Linked DNA regions of Homo sapiens. The protein of the gene in region 1 interacts with the protein of each later gene in a pairwise test. Each region holds a gene or a part of one and is shown in the gene's direction. Other genes may lie near its edges.

Evidence for each region.
Region 2: the proteins of QKI (region 1) and CPSF7 interact in a two-hybrid assay, tested with the Homo sapiens proteins (one large-scale study listed by BioGRID).
Region 3: the proteins of QKI (region 1) and HCLS1 interact in a two-hybrid assay, tested with the Homo sapiens proteins (one large-scale study listed by BioGRID and IntAct).
Region 4: the proteins of QKI (region 1) and RNF138 interact in a two-hybrid assay, tested with the Homo sapiens proteins (one large-scale study listed by BioGRID and IntAct).
Region 5: the proteins of QKI (region 1) and TNRC6A interact in a two-hybrid assay, tested with the Homo sapiens proteins (one large-scale study listed by BioGRID).
Region 6: the proteins of QKI (region 1) and MBNL2 interact in a two-hybrid assay, tested with the Homo sapiens proteins (one large-scale study listed by BioGRID).
Region 7: the proteins of QKI (region 1) and ANKHD1 interact in a two-hybrid assay, tested with the Homo sapiens proteins (one large-scale study listed by BioGRID).

Annotation. Positions count from the first base shown.
Region 1 is NC_000006.12:163,561,218-163,564,717, forward strand, and holds part of QKI (KH domain-containing RNA-binding protein QKI), read left to right. Parts: intron 1-764; coding exon 765-852; intron 853-2,202; coding exon 2,203-2,502; coding exon of another isoform or gene 2,503-2,528; exon of another isoform or gene 2,529-3,449; coding exon of another isoform or gene 3,450-3,493; exon of another isoform or gene 3,494-3,500. UniProt on the Homo sapiens protein: RNA reader protein, which recognizes and binds specific RNAs, thereby regulating RNA metabolic processes, such as pre-mRNA splicing, circular RNA (circRNA) formation, mRNA export, mRNA stability and/or translation.
Region 2 is NC_000011.10:61,409,476-61,412,975, reverse strand, and holds part of CPSF7 (cleavage and polyadenylation specificity factor subunit 7), read left to right. Parts: intron 1-1,038; coding exon 1,039-1,207; intron 1,208-1,870; coding exon 1,871-2,033; 3' UTR 2,034-2,038; exon of another isoform or gene 2,039-2,395; intron 2,396-3,500.
Region 3 is NC_000003.12:121,654,404-121,657,903, reverse strand, and holds part of HCLS1 (hematopoietic lineage cell-specific protein), read left to right. Parts: intron 1-551; coding exon 552-625; intron 626-3,500. UniProt on the Homo sapiens protein: Substrate of the antigen receptor-coupled tyrosine kinase. Plays a role in antigen receptor signaling for both clonal expansion and deletion in lymphoid cells. May also be involved in the regulation of gene expression.
Region 4 is NC_000018.10:32,112,374-32,115,873, forward strand, and holds part of RNF138 (E3 ubiquitin-protein ligase RNF138), read left to right. Parts: intron 1-1,371; coding exon 1,372-1,487; intron 1,488-3,500. UniProt on the Homo sapiens protein: E3 ubiquitin-protein ligase involved in DNA damage response by promoting DNA resection and homologous recombination.
Region 5 is NC_000016.10:24,788,651-24,792,150, forward strand, and holds part of TNRC6A (trinucleotide repeat-containing gene 6A protein), read left to right. Parts: intron 1-581; coding exon 582-3,167; intron 3,168-3,500.
Region 6 is NC_000013.11:97,225,333-97,228,832, forward strand, and holds part of MBNL2 (muscleblind-like protein 2), read left to right. Parts: intron 1-3,500. UniProt on the Homo sapiens protein: Mediates pre-mRNA alternative splicing regulation. Acts either as activator or repressor of splicing on specific pre-mRNA targets. Inhibits cardiac troponin-T (TNNT2) pre-mRNA exon inclusion but induces insulin receptor (IR) pre-mRNA exon inclusion in muscle.
Region 7 is NC_000005.10:140,537,833-140,540,349, forward strand, and holds the end of ANKHD1 (ankyrin repeat and KH domain-containing protein 1), read left to right. Parts: intron 1-253; coding exon 254-429; intron 430-1,086; coding exon 1,087-1,251; intron 1,252-1,526; coding exon 1,527-1,586; 3' UTR 1,587-2,017; downstream 2,018-2,517. Other genes in the region: ANKHD1-EIF4EBP3 protein, read left to right, coding at 254-429, 1,087-1,251. UniProt on the Homo sapiens protein: May play a role as a scaffolding protein that may be associated with the abnormal phenotype of leukemia cells. Isoform 2 may possess an antiapoptotic effect and protect cells during normal cell survival through its regulation of caspases.

The DNA of each region.
Region 1 (3,500 bases):
TTGTATGTTTAAAATTATTTGTGTGCACATGTGCACGCGCGTGTGTGTATGTGTGTGTTTAACGAACACATTTGAGTTTTGGAATATTCAGCAAAATGATAGTTGCTGGCTGGGTGCAGTGGCTCACACTTGTAAACTTAGCACTTTGGGAGGCTGAAGCAGGAGGATCACTTGAAGCCAGGAGTTTGAGACCAGCCTGGGCTACAAAACGAGACCTTGTCTCTACAAAAAATAAAAAAAATTAGCCAGGCATGGTGGCGCGTGCCTCTAGTCGCAGCTACTTCGGAGGCTGAGGTAGGAGGATGGCTCGAACCTAGGAATTCAAGGTGGCTGTGAGCTAGGATCATGCCACAGCACTCCAGCCTGGGTAACAGAGCAAGACCCTGTATCTAAAAACAATAAAATTAATTAAAGTAATTTTAAAATGATAGATGCTGAAGAGAATATGTTATGTTTAGTCTTATCTCACATTTTCATTCATTTCTATTTAAAAGTAAAGCTTTTTAGGGGAACTTTAATAAATCGGTGTAACTGACAAAAAATTTACAAATACAATATGCTGTATATCAACATGCCTTTACTGAGAAAACAGAGAAAGCAGGCTCCATTATGTTAGCACCTTTTGGTTCTTGATCTTTTTTTCCCCTTATTAAAACAGGTGACTGTAGTCACATGATACTTACTTTAAGGCTTGTGTGTAGATATAGCTATTATATTTGTGGACAGTCTCAAATGCTTTCATCTCATGTGTTTTCCATGTATAGGCAGAAGGAGAAGACAGCCTGAAGAAGATGCAGCTGATGGAGCTTGCGATTCTGAATGGCACCTACAGAGATGCCAACATTAAATCACGTAAGAATGAGCTCTGAGGCCCAGGGTTACTGCTGTCTGCGTTGTTTTGTCTACAGACTTTTTTCCTTTTGGCAACACAATAATAGTTCATACAAAGTGAACAGTTGAAATAACTGTTCTGTCACTTGATATGGGGCTGACAGTCCTATTTTTAATGCTTTCATGAATTGAGGACACTCTTGATTTTATTTTATGTCAGCATGTTGAAGTTTTAGGTTGATAAACTTACATTATTTTAACAAAATCACAATCTCTAAATTCAAGTGTTTAAGAAATTTTCTGTTTGGTTAACTACAGATGTAGGGCTTGCAGCTTATCTTGTTAAATTTATGCAAAAGACAACATATTGAAAGCTTATTTTGAAAAAGTGAATTTGAAGTGTATCTGACTGAAATGACCCTCTGTTGAGTTCTGTCCTTTCACTTTGCTTGCATGTTTTCCCTCTAGTATTTTTCCCTGTTGATTTCATATGTGAGTTCACAGAGATCAGTGGGTGATAACTCTTTTTCCGTCCTATTTTTGTTTTTATGCGTATCTATGCATGTTTTTATAAGCCGTAAGAGGATAGCTTTTTTATGTTTAAAATGAAATAATGTGAAATTTATATTTTGAAACAATTTAAGATTCATACATGTCATTTATATGAACATACCATGTTTAAATTACTGATTATTTAAAACACATAGAATTTTTAAGTTCTAGCCAGATTTAGAAGATGTAGGCAACCTCTAGTGGGTTTAGAAGTAGTTACTTTACAAATTGTTGACATTAATTTACTCATGAAAATGTGAGTATATCATTAATAGGAATTTAGAAGTAGGGCTTTTTAAGATTTTCTGTGACGTTGGTTCCTAAAGATGCAGGAAATGTACATATATACCTAGTGGTTACTTGACTAAATGCAATAAAAATTATTCTTTCTTTACTTTGAAACTAAAGCTGTACTTTAGAAATATACCAAAACTGAGTTTCTGTGGACTCCGGTTACAAATTATTTTTTAACATCTGTTAATGCAAGTGTTTCATTGTGCTTCTGCATGTACTTTAGTCTTATGAAATCTTAGATATATCAAATGTATGAACTAAATATAACCTATTTAATGGTGTCATTCATTTTTTTACAATGGCTTTTTAATTTTTGCACATTCTTAATCACATTGGGAAAGGGAAAGCTGTTTGCATTTGATTGGTGTGCTTTTGCATTTTTGTGTGATCAGCGCATGTACTAATGATTTCCTTTTATTTTTCTTCTTTCCTGCTTTTCCTTTCTTTTTCCTACTCCCTTCTCATTTTTCCGTATTTTATACTGCTGTCTCTATACTTCTTTCTAAATTTCTTTGCTTACTGTAGCAGCCCTTGCCTTTTCTCTTGCAGCAACAGCCCAGGCTGCTCCAAGGATCATTACTGGGCCTGCGCCGGTTCTCCCACCAGCTGCCCTGCGTACTCCTACGCCAGCTGGCCCTACCATAATGCCTTTGATCAGACAAATACAGACCGCTGTCATGCCAAACGGAACTCCTCACCCAACTGCTGCAATAGTTCCTCCAGGGCCCGAAGCTGGTTTAATCTATACACCCTATGAGTACCCCTACACATTGGCACCAGCTACATCAATCCTTGAGTATCCTATTGAACCTAGTGGTGTATTAGGTAAGTTCTTCTCCCCATGGGGTTAACAACATTCTCTTTATAAATATTTTTGCTCCCTCAGATTTTGAAATGATTTTATCAGTTTTAGAGAGGCAAGACAAGTTTGCATTAGGGAAGACCGAAAACTAAATTTTGTTTTATTTCAGCCTCTCATAAGGGTTCCCCTTTGAAATAATTGCACCTTAAATTTATTCAGATCCACTTTGGTAACTGAGGTTCAGTTTGGTTGGGTAAATCTGTTGTGTACATTTCAACAAATACTTTTACATTTGACATTACTGAGGTCATTCTGAGTTTTAGGTCCCACCCCATTGGCCCGTCACCTCCATCAGCTCCACTTCTCAAACTTTATTTGAGATTTATTTTATCTCACAGGTTTGTGTAATTGTTGGAAAATTTTTAAACTTCTAAGTGAAAGTAGTCTGAGCGCTTTATAAAATTCATATTATTGTGTGTGTTTTGTAATATTTGCGATCACTTAAAATATCAGATAAATACAGTCATGCATCGCTTAACAACGGGGATACAGTCTAAGAATTGCCTTGTCTGGCAGTTTCATCATTTGGTGTACATCATAGAGTGTACTTACACAGACATAGATGATATCGTTTACTACACACCTAGGCTGTGTGGTATAGCCATTATAATCTTATGGGACCACATAGTATAAGTGGTCCGTTGTTGACCAAAATGTTGTTATGCAGGCATGACTGTAGTTGTATTCTTAAGATTTTTCAGTTCTTGTGTTTTGGAGTCCTAGTCATATTAAACATGAGAGATACTCTTAATTTCAGTAGTACAGTATGGAATAGTTAAATAAATAGCAAATCACTGAATTCAGAATCTCACTTAAGGCAGAAATTAAAATCATAATATAAACGCTTGGTTTTACATGAACAAAAAGTGGTGTGCTCGAAAAAGACATTACTGATGCCTTTTTTTTATAGAGTGGATTGAAATGCCAGTCATGCCTGATATTTCAGCCCATTGACTTGCTG
Region 2 (3,500 bases), on another chromosome or scaffold:
TCAAAAACAAAATAGTCCTCTATACAAGGACCATCAACCAATAAGACCACCTTTTATAGTTTATATTCCTCCAGAATTTTTTCTATGCATATGACAATTTATATAATTTTTATTGTTTTTACAAAAACAGGATATGGTTTTGAAACTTGCTTGTTTCAATTAGTATATTCTGGACACCTATTATATCAACATATAACATAACATTTATTGATCCTTACTGTGTGCCTGGCACTGTGCTAAGGGCTTTACATGGATTACTTTGTTTACATACAGGTTTACCTCCTGCTTTTTTAATTGTTAATAGTACATTAATAATGTAATATTCTGTAGAACCAATGTTCCTTTATATAGCCAGACCCTATTGAAGATAATATAACAAACAACACTGGCCGGGCGCAGTGGCTCATGCCTGTAATCCCAGCACTTTGGGAGGCCAAGGCGGGCGGATCACAGGGTCAGGAGATCAAGACCATCCTGGCTAACACGGTGAAACTCCGTCTCTATTAATAATACAAAACATTAGCTGGGTGTGGTGGCAGGCGCCTGTAGTCCCAGCTACTCAGGAGGCTGAGGCAGGAGGATGGCGTGAACCTGGGAGGCGGAGCTTGCAGTGAGCCGAGATCACGGCCACTGCACTCCAGCCTGGGCAACAGAGTGAGACTGTCTCAAAAAAAAAAAAAATGAAAAAAAATAAACACTAAAACACTGTTAAACATACACACTTGTGAACAGAAGTAGAAAATTTTTAATAGAATTGCTGGCTCAAAAAATATGCACATTGTTTATTTTAATAGATGTCAAATAGCCCCTGGACAACAGTGTGTCAGTTTGTTCATCTGACAACATCTGTTAAATTCCGAACTGCTGGAATATAGGTGTCATCCAGTTTTACACTTGCAACATCTGCCTTGTCTCTTTTACCGCGGTTGTTTGGGACGGCTAGCTACTCTTGGTTTGTGTCTGCCTGAGTTCTCCTTTTGGTCCAGTTAGTTTACCATCTCTCCTCACCCTTGGCCTTTCTCCTTCATCCTTTATCAGGGGATTACAGTGACGCAATTGAGACGCTGCTCACAGCCATTGCGGTTATCAAACAGTCCCGGGTTGCCAATGATGAGCGTTGCCGTGTCCTCATCTCCTCTCTTAAGGACTGTCTTCATGGCATCGAAGCCAAGTCCTACAGTGTGGGTGCCAGTGGGAGCTCTTCCAGGTGAGTTGGTGATTGTGTCCTCACCTACCAGCCCCAAGCAGCACTCTTCCAGGGATAGGGAGTGGGGACAAATGGAGCCCAGGGAATCTGGGAAAGACCTGGCCGAAAGTCTGGACGTTAGCCTTCATGTCTTTTTGGGGAAGAAACTAATCAGATGCTTTCATTAATAAGTGTTGTAACATCTGGAATCTGGTGGGTGAGGCAGTGGGCTCATGTAGGAAAAAATACAGACAGATATTTTTAAGAACATGGGTTTTGGAGCCCTACAAGCTTGGATTGGAATCCCAGTTCTGCTGCTAACTATCTGTATGACCTTCTTGTGTATGGAAGTTAGTCAACTTTCCAAGCCTTATTTTTCTCATTTTCTAAAAAAGGGACACTGATAGTATTTATCTTACAGACCTGTTGTAAAGATTAGGTCAGATAATCCATACAAAATTATTAGCACTACACCTGATAAATTAGTTCTCAACAGATAAATTTACCTGTTAATCATCTTCCCAAAAAAGAGTAGTCCTCAAAGAGCTAAAATCCTCAGACAGCAGGCCCATGATAGAGTAATAGAGGAATAGTTTAGGCAAATATCAGAAGACACCAAAACACCACATTCTTGGAAAGAAAGTGGTAGGCCTTCTGAGTGAGGCTGAAGGATCTTTCTAATAGGAAAAGACATCGCTCCCGGGAAAGGTCACCTAGCCGGTCCCGGGAGAGCAGCAGGAGGCACCGGGATCTGCTTCATAATGAAGATCGGCATGATGATTATTTCCAAGAAAGGAACCGGGAGCATGAGAGACACCGGGATAGAGAACGGGACCGGCACCACTGAGAAAGGTGGGGAGAAGCCCCGTTCCTGGCTGCTGGGGGATTTTTTATTAAAAAAAGATTTATAGTGAAGAATTCTCTCTCTTTAAAGCAAAAGTAAATGCAGCAAGGGTAGGGGGAACTTCTGATTTACATAACTGGAATTTCAGGGCAGATTTTCTGCACATTTATGGGGAGTCTTACCCTGAGATTCAGCTGTTTCTGCTTGTTTCTTGACTGCCTTAACCTGGTATCTGAGTGAGAGTATGGTGTCTGCATTCAGGTACCAATTTGAATCCCAGTTTCTCCACTAATAATTGGCCATATTACTTTCTGTTCCACAGTTTCATTTGTAAATGAAGATAATAAAAGCAACTGTCCCAGTGACTTGCTAAGTTTTAGTGAGAGAGTCCATGTAGACCATTTAGCACTCATGGTACCTGTCACATAGTAAGTTCTCAATAATTAATAGCCATTGTTATTATCATTATGAACTTTCAATTTAAATTAGGAAAATTGACTAAGAATAGTAAAGCCATTGCCACTTAGTTTTCAAGCTGCAACATTAATGATTTTAAGAATTAGGCTTGGCATGATGGCTCACACCTATGATCCCAGCACTTTGGGAGGCCAAGATGGGAGGATTGTTTGAGCCAGGAGTTCGAGACCAGCCTGGGCAACATAGGGAGACCCTGTCTCTACAAAAAATACAAAAATTAGCCAAGTGTGGTGGTCCCAGCTACTTAGGAGGTGGAGGTGGGAGGGTTGCTTGAGCCTAGGAGGTCGAGGCTGCAGTGATCTGTGATTGCACCACTGCACTCTGGCCTGAGCGACAGTGAGACCTTGTCTGAAAAAAGGTAGGGAGGAGGGGCGGGTGGGTGCCTCATGCCTGTAATCCCATCACTTCAGTAATTTGGGAGGCAGAGGCTAGAGGATCACTTAAGCAGGAGTTTGAGACCAGCCTGAGCAACATAGTGAAACCCTATCTTTTTTTTTTTGAGACAGAGCCTCACTTTGCCGCCCACGCTGGAGTATAGTGGCATGATCTCAGCTCACTGCAACCCCCACTTCCCGGGTTCAAGCTATTCTGCCTCAGCCTCCCCAGCAGCTGGGGCTACAGGCGCGCGTCACCACGCCCGCTAATTTTTCTGTTTTTAGTAGAGGCGGGGCTTTACCATACTGGCCAGGTTGGCCTTGAACTCCTGACTTCGTGATCAGCCCACCTTGGCCTCCCAAAGTGCTAGGATTACAGGCGTGAGCCACCATGCCTGGCCGAGACCCCATCTCTTTAAAAAAAAAAAAACGGTTTATTTAAAAGATTTTGAAAATTAATATGCTTTAGTCAGAGAGGAGAAAGCTGATCTGAAAAATTATCTTTAACAGGTTTAGAGGCTTTGTGGTGGATAATTAACTTCAACGGAAGGGTTTTTTGCTTTTGGAAAAGACTTAGTGACAAGGTTGTTTATTTTGTTGTTGTGTTTTTTGTTTTGTT
Region 3 (3,500 bases), on another chromosome or scaffold:
GCATGAAGTAGGCAGAGGAGGAACGGAGGTTTCAGAGCTCACTAGTTTAATTCTTTGTGTTTTCTTGTTTGTTTTTTGAGACAGAGTCTCACTCTGTCACCCAGGCTGGAGTACGGTGGTGCAATCTCAGCTCACTGCAACCTCTGCCTCCCAGGTTCAAGCGATTCTCCTACCTCAGCCTCCCAAGTAGTCCCTGCAGTTGGGACTACAGGTGCATGCCACCACACCTGGCTAATTTTTGTATTTTTTTGGTAGAGATGGGGTTTCACCATGTTGGCCAAGCTAGTCTTGAGCTCCTGACCTAAAGAGATCCACCCGCCTCGGCCTCCTAAAATGCTAGGATTACAGGCATAAGCCACCACGCCTGGCCTCACCAGTTTAATTCTTACATGGGGTCAGGATGGGATAAATATAGAGGGGATGTGAATAAAGACCCAGACTGAAGAAGGCAGTGGACACAGGGGACATGGAGGGCATGTGTCAGTTGGGTGGCCCTTCTCAATGTGGCACATTTCTTGCCGTCATGTATTACTGCGTGCTGTCGTTTGCAGAATGACATCTCTGAAAAGGAGCAACGATGGGGAGCCAAGACCATCGAGGGGTCTGGACGCACAGAACACATCAAGTAGGTGCCGAAAGGACTGGAGAAAAGGAAGGGGGTTATGGGAAGAGCCCAAAGAAAACTCGGAGACTTGGGGGAAGGTGAGGGAGGAAAAGGATAGGGTAGTTCATGTCTATGTATTATTGTGTTTGTTTTTTTTCTAGAGTCTGTTCCTGTGTGTACCTGTGTGTCATTGCATATTTCCATTTTATGTCTCTCCTCTTACCCTCCTCAACCCTATTATCTATCTTTTATACCTAACAACTCTGCTATTTCCCCAAGTGGGTCTATTGGATTAACTGCCTCCCTTCCTTTAGTAAGGCATGAGAGATTCATAGAGGAAGTGGACCAAATACTAAGGTCCTCTCTATCTATCTACCTGGCAATCATCTATCTCCTATCTATCTCTTCAGATAAATGTAAATATGTATTTAGAATTCAGGGTGACTTCCTTCAGATGAACTAAGAACAATTCAGTAAAATGTCAAGGTGAAGAACTCAGAATAAATGCTATAAAAAGAGGCCACTTCAGCTCCCATAACTGGCCCAAATAACTTTTAAAATACAGATTTGTACTTAGCTATTTGACAGAAGTTGGAAGCCATGAATGGTAATATGAAGAAATGTAACACTTGGAAAACCTGTTGATAAAAACTATTTTGGCAACGATGTTCAGGGATCTTTAAGATTATAGCCCCATATGCATTTTACCAGAAACAAACAAACAAACAAAACCCTCCGATACCAGAAGATAAAAGGAACTTACAGACATATCCAGGGGTTTCTGTGGGATATGTCATACATTCAGGCTGAGAGATCCCCTTCTCTCTTCCACGGATGATTCAGGATCATCTAACCAGGACCATCTGCTTTGGATAGTATCAGAATGTCAAACATTAGTAGCAAGGTAGACACAATAAATAGTGTAACAAGCAAAAATTCAACAACTACACACAAAATGGCAAGATTAATACAGTTTTAAGCTCCATTTTTAACTCCCCCTACCGCACCCTAAAAGCAGTGTTTTTACCTCTAGATTTTAAAAAGTGTCAGTGGATGACCACATTGCACAAGCAACATACTGTGAAAGCCTGGCACAAGTTTCTACAACTGGATGACAATACCACATTGTTTAATCAGAAATAAATGGTTTCGGCCGGGCGTGGTGGCTCACGCTTGTAATCCCAAAACTTTGGAAGGCCGAGCGAGGAAGATCACTTGAGGTCAGGAGTTCAAGACCAGCATGGGCAACATGATGAAACCCTGTGTCTACTAAAAATACAAAAATTAGATGGGCGTGGTGGCGGGCACCTGTAATCCCAGCTACTCAGGAGGCCGAAGCACGAGAGTCTCTTGAACCCAGGAGGCACAGGTTGCAGTGAGCTGAGATCGCACCACTGCACTCCAGCCAGGGTGATAGAGCGAGACTCAGTCTCAATAAATAAATAAATAAATAAATAAATAAATAAATAAATAAATGGTTTCAATTAAGTAGCTATAATGAATATTATTCTTAAACCATGCCATTCTGGAAAAAGATTGAAACAATGGAACAGGGTCATTCAGGAAGCTTCTGTGATACCCCTCTATAGACTCATAGATCAAAAAAAAAAAAAAAAAAACCACAAGACCCTTTTCCTTTTCTGAATAAAGGCCACTCAACGCTGGTATTCTGGGAATTGTCCAGATGAGGATGCACACTTCATGCCTTTGGTGGTATTGTAGCCAATGAGGTTTATCCGAGGTGTGATTATTGCTAATTGAAAACTTCCCAACACTCCGCCATGACGACTTGCAATATAGTAGGCATTGGCAAAAAAAAAAAAAAAAAAAAAAAAAAGAGCAAGCAACCCTCATAAAAAAATGAAATAACTTAAAAAAAAATAGCCACCCTGAAGATGTATAGTTACAGGTCAATGGGATAGCCAATGTCTAATGCAGTACTTAGCACTTCTGAGCAGCTCAGTGATGTTAGTTTTGTTTCCTGTTAATATAGGTTAGTTTAATCAGATTTCCTTTCTAAAATCTAACAAACATGTAAACAGACAACAGCCCTTTTTTCTCCTAAGTGGTGTCTACCTGGACTGTTGGATTGCACAACTCCTATACACAGATCACTCTGACGGGTGCTGCCTGGAGTGGTACAACATGGTGACCCTGCACATTTCCTTGTTAACCTAACTGAATCTATCAGATAGAATAAACGATGGAGATATTGACAAAAAAATCTCGCTCATCTCCCATTTACCCAGGTTATCAAGGAGTGAAAGCCTGGTATCTGCTGGTAACAGGCCAGGTGGCTTTAGACAAGTCCCTTTTCCTCTCTGATTCTCATTTTGCCCATCTGGATCAAAAAGACCTCTAGAGGACTTTCCAGTAGTAAGTCTCCACTATTTGGGGATTCCCTCTCGTTAGTGTGGGCTAAGTCAGTCTTTAACATCTGATGGGAATCACCATGGTCCTTGGAAAGGAGAGGGAAATTGGAGAGGAGAACAGTAGCTGTAGATGCTAACACTGACAGATCCCAAAATGAAAAAACAAAAAACAAACAAACAAAACAAAACAGTAGCTGTAGAGCTGAGACGACTAAAAGCAGGAAAAGGAAGTGGTTGCAGTTCTTACTAATCTTACTACCTTCCCCACACCGTGATGTCTCTTTTTAGGTCTGTCTTGAATAAATTTAGTTTGGATAGTAATTTGGTAATTCAGTGAATAATTCAAATGGTCCTATGCATCCCTTATCCATTCTGTAAAGGAACTGCCTGGTTTTCAAGAACTATCACCCTTCTCTCCACCTTCTTTTCTCCACTCTTGCCCATTCATTCTCAAGACTCAAGGGTGTCTTTTCCCTTGACCTGTTTGTTTATTTTCAAATCTGTCACAGACTGATACTTTTGTA
Region 4 (3,500 bases), on another chromosome or scaffold:
ATTTATGTATGTATTTAAGAAATCACAAGGGCCGGGCATGGTGGCTCATGCCTGTAATCCCAGCACTTATGGGAGGCCAAGGTGGGTGGATGACCTGAGGTCAGGAGTTCGAGACCAGCCTGACCAACATGGTGAAACCCCGTCTCTACTAAAAATAAAAAATCAGCCAGGTGTGGTGGCGCATGCCTATAATCCCAGCTACTTGGGAGGCTGAGGCAGAATTGTTTGAACCTGGGCGGCAGAGGTTGCGGTGAGCTGAGATTGCGCCATTGCACTCCAAACTGGGCAACAAGAGCGAAACGCTGTCTAAAAAAAAAGAAGAAGAAAGAAATCACAAAATATTTGGTTAATTTTAAGGAACATGTAGGAAAATCAGGTGTTAACAAATAACCAGCATTAATTCTCTAATCTGGATTTTATTCTATCATTTGGAGAAGGAATAAAATAGAGAGGGGTGGTTAGGCTTTGAGTATATCCATGTGTCTATAGATTTATCACCGACATTTTTTCTAATAGCTAATGAATTCAGTGAGCAAAGCTGGTTGCTATTTCATGCATTCACACAAGTCAGATCTGCTTTTACATCTTTTTGAAGGAAGTGTTTAACTGACAGGGCAATGACGTGAAGCTGGAAAACACACTCGAGAGATTCTGGCTATTCCTCTCAGTGAGAAACTGAAAAATGTTCCAAGTATTCCTGGCAACTTAATTTTTTTTGAGACAGGGTCTCACTTTGTCACCCAGGCTGGAGTACAGTGGCACAATCTCGGCTCACTGCAGCTTTGACTTCCCAGGCTCTAAGCAATCCTCCTGCCTCAGCCCCACAGGTAGCTGAGATTACACCTGGCTAATTTTTGTATTTTTTGTATAAACAGGATTTTGCCATATTGCTCAGGCTGGTCTTGAACCCCTGAACTCAAGCAGTCCACCCATCCCAGCCTCCCAAAAGGCTGGGATTACAAGCGCGAGCCACTGCACCCAGCCAGGAACTTAATTTTTTTTTAAGTGCTTTCTAACTCTGCCAGGCTGCAGAAGTTAAATAATAAGACATGCCCAATAGCATCTGGCATCCTCTTAGTGCTTTTAATTTTTTTGTCTACTGCTGGTAGTGTCTTTTCAAGTGTGAAGTTATTTGCTGTTTTTTGCAGTGAATTTATAGACAGATGGACTCTTCTCCATCTCTACATTTAATGAACAGAAATGTATTATCTATTCTTAACTCCTACTTAAGGATGAAATCATTTACTTTAAAAAAATACAACTCCTGTTTAAATGGAGTATTTAGTTACTTTTATTTTTTCCTCTCTTTACACTATTTCAAATCTTACGAGTTCTATTTTAAATTAAAAGTCACATTTTAATAATTTACAGATTAAATTCTATCGCATGAGACATCATTACAAATCTTGTAAGAAGTATCAGGATGAATATGGTGTTTCTTCTATCATTCCAAACTTTCAGATCTCTCAAGATTCAGTAGGGAACAGGTAAGCAATACTTATTCCTAAATACAGAATTTTCATAATTGAAATGGAAATTGTTTTGGGAACTATATGATAAGGTATTTGGGGGGATGTGTGTGTGTGTATGTGCACATGTGTTTTTAAAGTGAATTGCCAAGTATCAGAACTACAGCATTTGCCTTAAAATCTGTTTGGCACACGTAAGCTCTCATCTGGGAGATGACTTCATGAACTTCAGCTTATGTTATTTAAAATCATTCTAAGAATTTTCATTTTTTTGAGTAAAAAATAAGTTGGAGATTTTTCTCTTACTGATTTTGCAACTGAAATGATTTGAAAAACTATAGAAAATCCTTTTCAGTAATGTATTTGCAAACTACAACCTGTTTTTTCTTTGCTATCTAAGGGATAGACTTAGAGTTTGAAATTTTTATTCTAAAATGTCATGTAAAAATGAAACCAGGTGCAGTGCAGTTCTGTTTGAGTCTCATTTCTTTTAAACAACTAGATTTGGATTGATTTGTATCTTATCTCAGATTCATGTACATTAAACATTTTTATGAAATGTATTTTACACAGAAAAATGGCCAAAATGCACTTGTGGTTTAAAAAAATAATGATTAACATCCAGTTACCTATTAACCCAGGTCAAGAAAGAACATTTTTCAAAACTTCAGGATCTCTATGTGAGCTCCTGCCCATTTGAACCGTACACTCCTAGATGCAACCACTATTCTCTTATTTGGATTATTCATTCCTTTGATTTTCTTTATGTATCATCACCCATGCATGTATCCCTAAACAATGCATTGTTAATTTTGAAAACTTCAGTAGTAAGCACATACGTAACTGTAAGGAAAGACAATATTGCCACTATTATAGAAAGGTTCCCAGGAGACAGTATGTTAAGCAGTCTCTAATATTTTATTTTAGTAGCCTTTCATTTTACATATTGCTAATTTTTAGTAACTTAACCGCCCTTAAGCACTTCATGTTGATCATACTACATTAGGCGTCTTCCCTACTCAGTTGAAATTTCTGGTAAAAACCTTTAGTGATTGTCTGGTAAAGATCTGCAGTAATTTTCTGATTGCCTAGTCTGAAAAAACTTCAGGTTCTCATTTTACTTGACTTGTTAGTGTCAAGGAAATTTGTTTGAAAGTTGTTGCTCTTATAGTTTTTTTTTAGTCCTTCTGGGTTTCTTCATTTCTATGTTTTTCTTATTGTTGTACTTCTACTTTATTGTAATTTCCTATCTGCTTTTTTACCCAATAGATTGTTCTTAAGTGAGGGGATGGTGTTTGTCTTGTTGAGCATATCTCCAGCTTTTAGTAAAGTTCTTAGTATACATGATTGTAATCACGCTTTTAATGACCAAATTTTCTTATCAGGAGACAGGCCTTCCTCCCCCTTATTTCTTAGATCCACTTGGTCATAGACACTTGATTCCTAATAGCAATATTCCTCATCTGTACTTTTATTTTATCTTGTCACTTCCCTAGCTCAGGCCCTCATCATCTCTCACTCGAACTATGATAATAGCCTTTTTAGCTGGTAGTTATCCTCTAATCTGTTTTACATTCTATCGCCAAAGTAATATTAATGAAGTATAAAAGACAAAATTCTGGCTGGGCGCGGTGGCTCACACCTGTAATCCCAGCATTTTGGGAGGCCAAGGTGGGCAGATCACTTGAGGTCAGGAGTTCAAGACCAGCCTGGCCATCATGGTGAAACCTTGTCTCTACTAAAAATACAAAAATTAGCTGGACGTGGTGGCGCGTGCCTATAGTCCCAGCTACTTGGGAGGCTTAGGCAGGAGAATCACTTGACCCTAGGAAACGGAGGTTGCAGTGAGCCGAGAGCACATCACTGCACTCTAGCCTGGGCGACAGAGTCAGACTCCGTCTAAAACACACACACACGCACACACACGCACGCACGCACACACACACTTCCTTATTCCAAAGCCCTTTCTGATCTGGCCCTTTCCTCTCTTTTTATAGCCTCTTTCTTGGTTATCCATCGTTGCATCACATG
Region 5 (3,500 bases), on another chromosome or scaffold:
TTTTTTTTTTTTTTTTGAGACGGAGTCTCGCTCTGTCACCCAGGCTGGAGTGCAGTGGCACTATCTCCGCTCACTGCAAGCTCCGCCTCCCGGGTTCATGCCATTCTCCTGCCTCAGCCTCCCGAGTAGCTGGGACTACAGGCGCCCACCACCATGCCCGGCTAATTTTTTGTATTTTTGGTAGAGATGGGGTTTCACCATGTTAGCCAGGATGTTCTTGATCTCCTGACCTCGTGATCCACCCACCTCGGCCTTCCAGAGTGCTGGGATTACAAGCGTGAGCCACCACGCCCGGCCCAAAATTCTTTTATTTACCGATATGTTAACAATGTATTCATTCAGCAAGTATTTATCAAGGGGCTGTTATGTCCTCTAGGATCTTAGGATAGTATCAGTTGAACATAGAAAGTTGGTGGCTAGAAGATAACCAGTGCCCTTGTCACCATTCTGCCAAGGATCATAGCTTGTTAAATTGAGGAGCCACATATATTTATAACATATTCGTCATTTTTCTTAGATTTTAGTATCATTTTGAAATGGCCTAACACTTTATAAATAGTTGTACTTCTCCTTTATCCTAGATATAAACCACAGTACTTCAGGATCCCATTATGAAAATTCCCAGCGGGGACCTGTGTCTTCTACAAGTGATTCTAGCACAAACTGTAAGAATGCTGTTGTAAGTGACTTGTCGGAAAAAGAAGCATGGCCCTCAGCCCCTGGCAGTGATCCGGAGTTGGCTTCAGAATGTATGGATGCTGATTCTGCCTCCAGTTCTGAATCAGAGAGAAACATCACTATCATGGCTTCAGGGAACACAGGTGGTGAAAAAGATGGCCTTCGGAATAGCACTGGACTTGGTTCCCAAAACAAGTTTGTAGTTGGTAGCAGCAGCAATAATGTGGGCCATGGAAGTAGTACTGGGCCATGGGGTTTTTCCCATGGAGCCATAATAAGCACATGTCAGGTCTCTGTGGATGCTCCTGAAAGCAAATCTGAAAGTAGCAACAATAGAATGAATGCTTGGGGCACTGTAAGTTCTTCATCAAATGGAGGGTTAAATCCAAGCACTTTGAATTCAGCTAGCAACCATGGTGCCTGGCCAGTATTAGAGAACAATGGACTTGCCCTAAAAGGGCCTGTAGGGAGTGGTAGTTCTGGCATTAATATTCAGTGCAGTACTATAGGCCAGATGCCTAACAATCAGAGTATTAACTCTAAAGTGAGTGGTGGTTCTACCCATGGTACCTGGGGAAGCCTTCAGGAAACTTGTGAATCTGAAGTAAGTGGTACACAGAAGGTTTCATTCAGTGGTCAACCTCAAAATATTACCACTGAAATGACTGGACCAAATAACACTACTAACTTTATGACCTCTAGTTTACCAAACTCCGGTTCAGTGCAGAATAATGAGCTGCCTAGTAGTAACACAGGGGCCTGGCGTGTGAGCACAATGAATCATCCTCAGATGCAGGCTCCATCAGGTATGAATGGCACTTCCCTTTCTCACCTTAGCAATGGAGAGTCAAAAAGTGGAGGCTCTTATGGTACTACATGGGGTGCCTATGGTTCTAATTACTCTGGAGACAAATGTTCAGGCCCTAATGGCCAAGCTAATGGTGACACTGTGAATGCAACTCTAATGCAGCCTGGCGTAAATGGTCCTATGGGCACTAACTTTCAAGTTAACACAAACAAAGGAGGTGGTGTGTGGGAATCTGGTGCAGCAAACTCCCAGAGTACATCATGGGGAAGTGGAAATGGCGCAAATTCTGGAGGAAGTCGAAGAGGATGGGGAACCCCTGCACAAAACACTGGCACTAATTTACCCAGCGTTGAGTGGAACAAACTGCCTAGCAATCAGCATTCCAATGATAGTGCAAATGGCAATGGTAAGACGTTTACAAATGGATGGAAATCTACTGAGGAAGAGGATCAGGGTTCTGCCACATCTCAGACAAATGAGCAAAGCAGTGTGTGGGCCAAAACAGGAGGTACAGTGGAGAGCGATGGTAGTACAGAAAGCACTGGACGCCTTGAGGAAAAAGGAACTGGGGAAAGTCAGAGTAGAGACAGAAGAAAAATTGATCAGCACACATTACTCCAAAGCATTGTAAACAGAACTGACTTAGATCCACGTGTCCTGTCCAACTCTGGTTGGGGACAGACTCCTATTAAGCAGAATACTGCCTGGGATACAGAAACATCACCTAGAGGGGAACGAAAGACTGACAATGGGACAGAGGCCTGGGGAAGCTCTGCAACACAGACTTTTAACTCAGGGGCATGTATAGATAAGACTAGCCCTAATGGTAATGATACCTCATCTGTATCAGGGTGGGGCGATCCCAAACCTGCTCTGAGGTGGGGAGATTCCAAAGGCTCAAACTGCCAGGGGGGGTGGGAAGATGATTCTGCTGCTACAGGAATGGTCAAGAGCAATCAGTGGGGGAATTGCAAAGAGGAGAAGGCTGCATGGAATGACTCGCAAAAGAATAAACAGGGATGGGGTGATGGACAAAAATCAAGCCAAGGGTGGTCTGTTTCTGCCAGTGATAACTGGGGAGAAACTTCAAGGAATAACCATTGGGGTGAGGCCAATAAGAAATCCAGCTCAGGAGGTAGTGACAGTGACAGGTCCGTTTCCGGTTGGAACGAACTTGGTAAAACTAGTTCTTTCACTTGGGGAAACAACATAAATCCAAATAATTCATCAGGATGGGATGAATCTTCTAAACCTACTCCTTCCCAGGGATGGGGAGACCCTCCAAAGTCTAATCAGTCTCTAGGTTGGGGAGATTCGTCAAAGCCAGTCAGCTCTCCAGACTGGAACAAGCAACAAGACATTGTTGGATCTTGGGGAATCCCACCAGCTACAGGCAAACCTCCTGGTACAGGCTGGCTGGGGGGACCTATACCAGCCCCAGCAAAAGAAGAAGAACCCACAGGCTGGGAGGAACCATCCCCAGAATCTATACGTCGCAAAATGGAGATTGATGATGGAACTTCAGCTTGGGGAGATCCAAGCAAATACAACTACAAAAATGTGAACATGTGGAACAAAAACGTCCCAAATGGCAACAGCCGTTCAGACCAGCAAGCACAGGTACATCAGCTGCTAACGCCTGCAAGTGCCATCTCAAACAAAGAGGCAAGCAGTGGCTCTGGTAAGTTTCTATTTTATGAAATCAAGCCTTGTTTTAACTTACTGTTATTATAAGATTTGTATAACAAAGTACTTGGATATGCACACAAAGGCTGTTCTTACTGTAATCCAGAAGCAGCTTGAAAAAAATTATAGGGGTGATGTTTACCACCAGAGAACAGAACTCCACTTTTGGCAGTGTTGTTTGAGTCCTGCACACTTCATTCTCTATTAGAAATGCAAGAGAAGGCGAATTGGACAAAGGCGGTCAAGTGGGAATGCTGTACACTTCTCCAAGTTGTTTTTGAGTTAGGCCTTAACTTGTGGTTTTATTATTTGACTAAAATATCTCCAG
Region 6 (3,500 bases), on another chromosome or scaffold:
AACAAGAAAAAGATGAAAAGGAAGGTATACTGATTTGTTTACATTTCCAAAATGACAAAACAGATTATCAACATAGAAATAGGTTGGCAACATTGCAAGGGGTGAAGGATTCTGATTCGGGAAAAGGTGGATAACTACAAGACATGTTGGTTGTTGAAAACATAGTTTTGGGGGCCTTTACCATCTTCAGGTACAGCTACATGTCAGAGCTGGCTGGGTTGTGCCAAGCAGAGAAACCTGGCAACTCTAGGGGGCAGGTGGGCAGTGGAGATAAAGGGGGTTATAAAAAGGTAGGGAGGTGTGGGCATAAAAATCAACAAGCAAGAAAGCCCAGAGAGAGCTGCAGGTCAAGAGTCAGGCCAGGCAAGCACAGATCCCTGGGGCATGGCAGAACAGGAGAGGACAGTTCGCCCTGTTCACGAAATCTGCTCAAGACCCAAGCTAAAGGCCTAGCAAAGAAAGGCAGGAAATAGCTGCAAAGAGAAGTAAAGGTGTCATGGGCCCAGGCATCCTTTCCGGAAGGGTCGACTCAACTGGATGAGCATGGATGTCCACTGCTGGGGAGAGCAAAGAGCTTGATATTTTAATGCTTTGGTTTCTCTCAGAAGAATGAGGCAGGAAGACTTAACCGGGCTTTGTAAATTAGTTAACATACTATTTTTTTTTCTCCAGTTTTATACTCTTCTCAGTTTTTTTTTTCTTTTAAAAAATGTGCACAAACTATTTGTTGCAGCCGTGATAATATTCGTAGTAAAGAGCCAAAGGTGCTGCGTGGCTGGGTCTGCATCAGGCCTGGGCCTCCGACTGCACGGCTCCAACTACACAGTTGTTTATGGAGACCAGTCCCGGCCTCCTCTGCTGAGAGTAAAAACAGGTGTGAAAGGTAAGGCCTAAGGGTTTCTTTTGTAAACCTGAGCTCTGAGGCTGATGGACGAGTTTTGGGCTGGCCTGCCCTCCTCAATACAGCAGAAACGCTTGGTAATAAAAGTGGACTCAATAATTTACCTTAGTGTTTTGACAAAGAATGCATTGTCTGAATTATACTAGGTAGTATATTCCATCAATCAGTCAACAAGTGTTTATTAAACACCTCTGGGCTTCCCTGGCTTTTGCTATTTGGTGAGAAACCCAACTCAGTAACCTAATACCTGCCTTTGTGTGTGTGTACAAAAATAAATGATGCAAAATTGTAAGTTTCAAAGACTTGAATAACTTTATTGGCTAATATTAATTTAGCATTGTTAACCATCAGATTAATTTTAGGCTTGGGGCAGTTTTAGTGATTGGGGGAGAACAAGAGATGGACTTTTGAGTTTTAGGTATCTGTATGTATGTACTTTCTTGACCTCTGTTATATTTCTCCAGATAAGTACTGTTTAAATAACATATAAAGATGTCAGATGAGCAATAGATAGATAAGAATGGTGCAAAAAAAAATCAAAATATGAAGCTACTGAGAGCAATTTCTGAGTCTCAGCATACTGAGTTTTGGCCCCAAAGTGCCTGGGGAAAATGGACATATCATCTAAAAAGCTGTAAATACCAGCCAACAACAGGAAGTCTTAGACTCCTGTCCCACACTTCTGAGCTGCAGGGTGTGGGGGAAGCCCCATGCCTTTATCTCACTGTCTCTATCTCTAGCAAGGAAACCTGTTTCCTGACTCTGCAGAATTTCGCTTTCCCCCTTTTTCCTTAAAAGCAGAGTTACAAAAAAAAAAAACAAAAAAAAAATCAAAAAAAAAAAATATATTTCCTTTTGAAACACTAAGTTTTGGGTTTATTTGTTGGTTTTACCCTAACATCACAGTTAGTGTGTATTCTCTGGGCACAGACAAGCTGCGAGGTTCAGGGACGCAGCCTGGGGGAGAGCTGAGAGAGGAGGCTGAGGATGTAGCCATGTTTATAGAACTCTTTTCAGGCATGGGTCTTGGCAGACAGATGGGCAGGTCCAAGGTTTATGGGCATTGACTGCAAGCTGGTTGCTGTAGAAGAGCTCCAGGGTGGTACATGACCTCAGAGGAAAAAGGGAGGAGTCAAGAACACTGAAAATGCTGCGGCCGTTTGCAATCCACAATAGCAAGGAAACAAGATATTTACAAATGAGATAAGGATGGTTAAGCACTCAAATGTCTTCAGAAGGAGAATTAACATATGTGTAGTTTCTTACACTTTACAAAGGGCGTTCACAGGCATTATCTTAATTAGCAGTTCAAATAGAAAGTTAAAAAGTGGGAGTCTAAACTTAGGGCACTCTGGCAAGGATGTGCTGGGTAAAGCTGCTGGAGGAGATGCATTATAAACTGGATTTTTAAAACTTGGAGTTATTGATTTTTTTCCAGCAGCTAATTGACTTGAATTTTGAAGGACAGGAAAAACTTAGAACTGTCCCTGGGGGTGCACATGCTTGTCCCCAAATGCCTTCATGGGCAGCGTGTGCATTTAGACTAGACTTTGGGACCATTGGTAGCCTAGATGCCAAGGAAGAGCAAGAAGACAGGTTGATTTGCTTTGCTTTTTCAGCTCTGACTGCTAGGCATTCAAGCACAAAACCTGTGCTGGCTCTGCACCCCAAATGGTCACACAGAAGTAAGGTGCTTCTAGAACAGAAAATCCATGCGTAATTATGAATGGTCTGCAGATCTGGGAAAAACCAAAGTCTACAAGGAGACCAAAATTCAAAGCATTCAATTTTCCCATGAGAGCATCTCATTGAGTTCTCCTAAGCCTGTTACAGGGAGTTGGGGGGGAAATGAATATTTCAAGGGCATGTGTTAGAAACTGGCTGTTTTACATACATATCTCATATAATTTGAACCTAAGAAGAGCAGGAGAGCCCCACAAAGTTAATACTATCCCCAGCTGGCCAGTAGAAGAGAAGCTCTGAAAAGCTCTGACAGCCATGATCCCACAGCTAATACTTGGCTGAGCAAGTATTTAAACTCAGGCCCATAAGACCCCCAAGCTGTATAGGTAGGTGACATTATGTTTTTCAGCTGAACGAATGAAATTGAGGACATAAAAATAATTCATTTGCAGAAAAAAAAGCTCAAGGTGGAGGTAGGAGATTAATTATTTTAAAACTCTCAGATGTACTTTATATAGTTTACATTATAATATGCAAATACTGAGTGTACTAGTGATAGTAACATATATATATCTTACATGTATATATAATTTCAGTTTTTATATTTATTATCTTTTTTTTTTTTTTTTTGAGACAGAGTCGCACTCTGTTGCCCAAGCTGGAGTGCGGTGGCACTATCTCAGCTCACTGCCAACCTCTGCCTCCCAGGTTCAAGCGATTCTCCTGCCTCAGCCTCCCAAGTAGCTGGGATCACAGGCGTGTGTCACCACACCTGGCTAATTTTTGTATTTTTAGTAGAGACAGGGTTTCACCATATTGGCCAGGGTAGTCTCGAACTCCTGACCTCAGGTAATCCACCCGCCTCAGCCTCCCAGAGTGCTGGGATTACAGGTGTGAGCCACTGTTCCTGGCCTAT
Region 7 (2,517 bases), on another chromosome or scaffold:
TAAATAATCATTTGAGTTCTTTCAGAGAGTACTTAATCTTTTAAAAGACAGGGTAAAGTGGAGTATTCAGAGGACTTTACCTAGTTTTTCAGGAACTGGTTTTTTTTGGCTAGCAAGACTGTGATAAATACGCTTTGAGCTCTTCAGAGGAAAGATTTCAGTAACATTTGGTCATGTTTGGTAATAACAATGGTAATGTTTTGTTGTTTTATCCAAATAAATTTAAAACTTTGTTTTCAATTATTCTTTCCAGAAGGCTTATCAGGTTGGTCGCAATCTGTGATGGGGAACCATCCAATGCATCAACAATTATCAGACCCAAGCACATTCTCCCAACATCAGCCAATGGAGAGAGATGATTCTGGAATGGTAGCCCCCTCTAACATTTTTCATCAGCCTATGGCAAGTGGTTTTGTGGATTTTTCTAAAGTGAGTTGACAAACATCACTGTAACTTGATTGACACTTTGTCAGCCAATGTAGTCACATTAAGGAATACCTTGTATTGAAATAATGCTCCCTTTTGTTTCTGTGGCTTTGCTAGATCTTTTGCTTAATTTCAGGAGTGCACAGAGTTGTCCACAGTAGTTTGTCCTGAAGATGTCCCCATCCCCCGAAAACACCTGAGGGATTTGGGTTTTGCCACTTTGTGCTCTGCTACTACAGCTTTGAGGGAGGCCTCTACCCCTCTTAAAAGCTGGCCATGAGTTCACTGATGCTTTCTTGTCTGCTCTGACAGCTTTATGTCGGCAATCAATTATGTAGAGTTCCCATTTTCTTCTTAGCTCAAGCTTATTCATGAAACTAAAATATGGGAAAGTTGAGGTTATTTTTATCAAATATGAGAAATTTCCTGATGATTTCATATTGGATTTAGTTTCTTTCTCTCTCTTGTTTTTTGTTGAAAAGCTTTGCAGATGCAGATAAACATTTTGTTTTCTCAACACTGCCATACTGTACTTATAGGATCTTTTGGAGTTCTTTAAATGAGGAATATTAGAGAAGTCTAAGCTGGTATTATGGGATTTATAGTAATTTTATAATTTATAGTAATTTTAAGATTAAATCTTTTTTCCTGCTGTTTTAGGGTCTGCCAATTTCCATGTATGGAGGCACCATAATACCCTCTCATCCTCAGCTTGCTGATGTTCCAGGAGGCCCTCTGTTTAATGGACTTCACAATCCAGATCCTGCTTGGAACCCTATGATAAAAGTTATCCAAAATTCAACTGAATGCACTGATGCCCAGCAGGTAAAATGGGCTTAATGCTCTTTTGTTTTTTAGATTTGTCACATCATTCTTTTTGTTTTGTGAGAAGTATAAGTACTGAATATCAAAAGTCATAATTGACCATTTCGATCTGGATTGCTTTTTCAATATCAAGATGATGCTACTGAACACTTTATTTAATATATGTGTATTCTTCCTAGGCAGAAACAGTGAATTGCCATTGCATTTATATATTCATTTTGTAACTGTCTAAAGATTCCTAATTAGAAATTCCAATTTTTCCTCCCCCTTTTCAGATTTGGCCTGGCACGTGGGCACCTCATATTGGAAACATGCATCTCAAATATGTCAACTAAGTTAGAAGGTCTTTACTCTTTAGCCTTGTTTAAGAAACCTATGACCTTGGAAGAACCATGGGGATTTTTTTTTAATGTGCCTAAGAAATTTTCTCTGAGGCTTTAGCAATGGAAATTTGATTGCCCATTGTATAAGAACAAATTGATTTCCTATCCACCTGATTATGTTCTCTGGTTAGTTTAGCCATTTTGAACTTAAGATCATATGACCTTAGTGCTTTTGGCTAAACATACAGAATACTACTTGTATGCAGAAGAGAATTAGTTGATTACATGTTTCAACCTTTTAGGGTGATAAATACATGTATAATTGTTTACATACTTAAAAGGAAAAAGTTGAGTAAATTTCTTGTCATATAGTGGCTCTACGTAATGTAGCCTGTATTAATGTGAAATATTTACCAGAATATTCAATAAAAAGATGAACAGTCTTTAGAAGTGGGGTGTGATCCTTTCAGTGGTCATGCAGGTACCACTCAATCCACATTATATTGAACCAGATGGTTAATACTATATTTGTAACAGGCTTCTCACATTTAACACTTGAGTCCCTTCTTAGACTGCCTTAAAAAAGCACTTTTAAGACTATTTACCTATTTATTCTGTGTTAAACATTCCTTGTTCCCTTGTTGTCTTCCATAATCCTTTAACATATGAGAAAGTTTCAAGCTCTGGCAATGTGTCTTATCTGACTTTAGCTAGCAGATAGGCCACTGATAGGTTTTTTCTCTATGGATCATGAGAATGTCAATAAGAACAATTGGATTTAAATCAGATGACACTAAACAAATGTAGGGACACCCAAATTATCAACTTCAGGTTCCTTCTGTGCTTCCTGACCTTTTTTATCTGAAAGATTTGTCTGGTTATAGATATTTTAAGCTTTATATGAGTTGGGACATAAGGAGGTGACTCCTGTCATTCTGTTGTA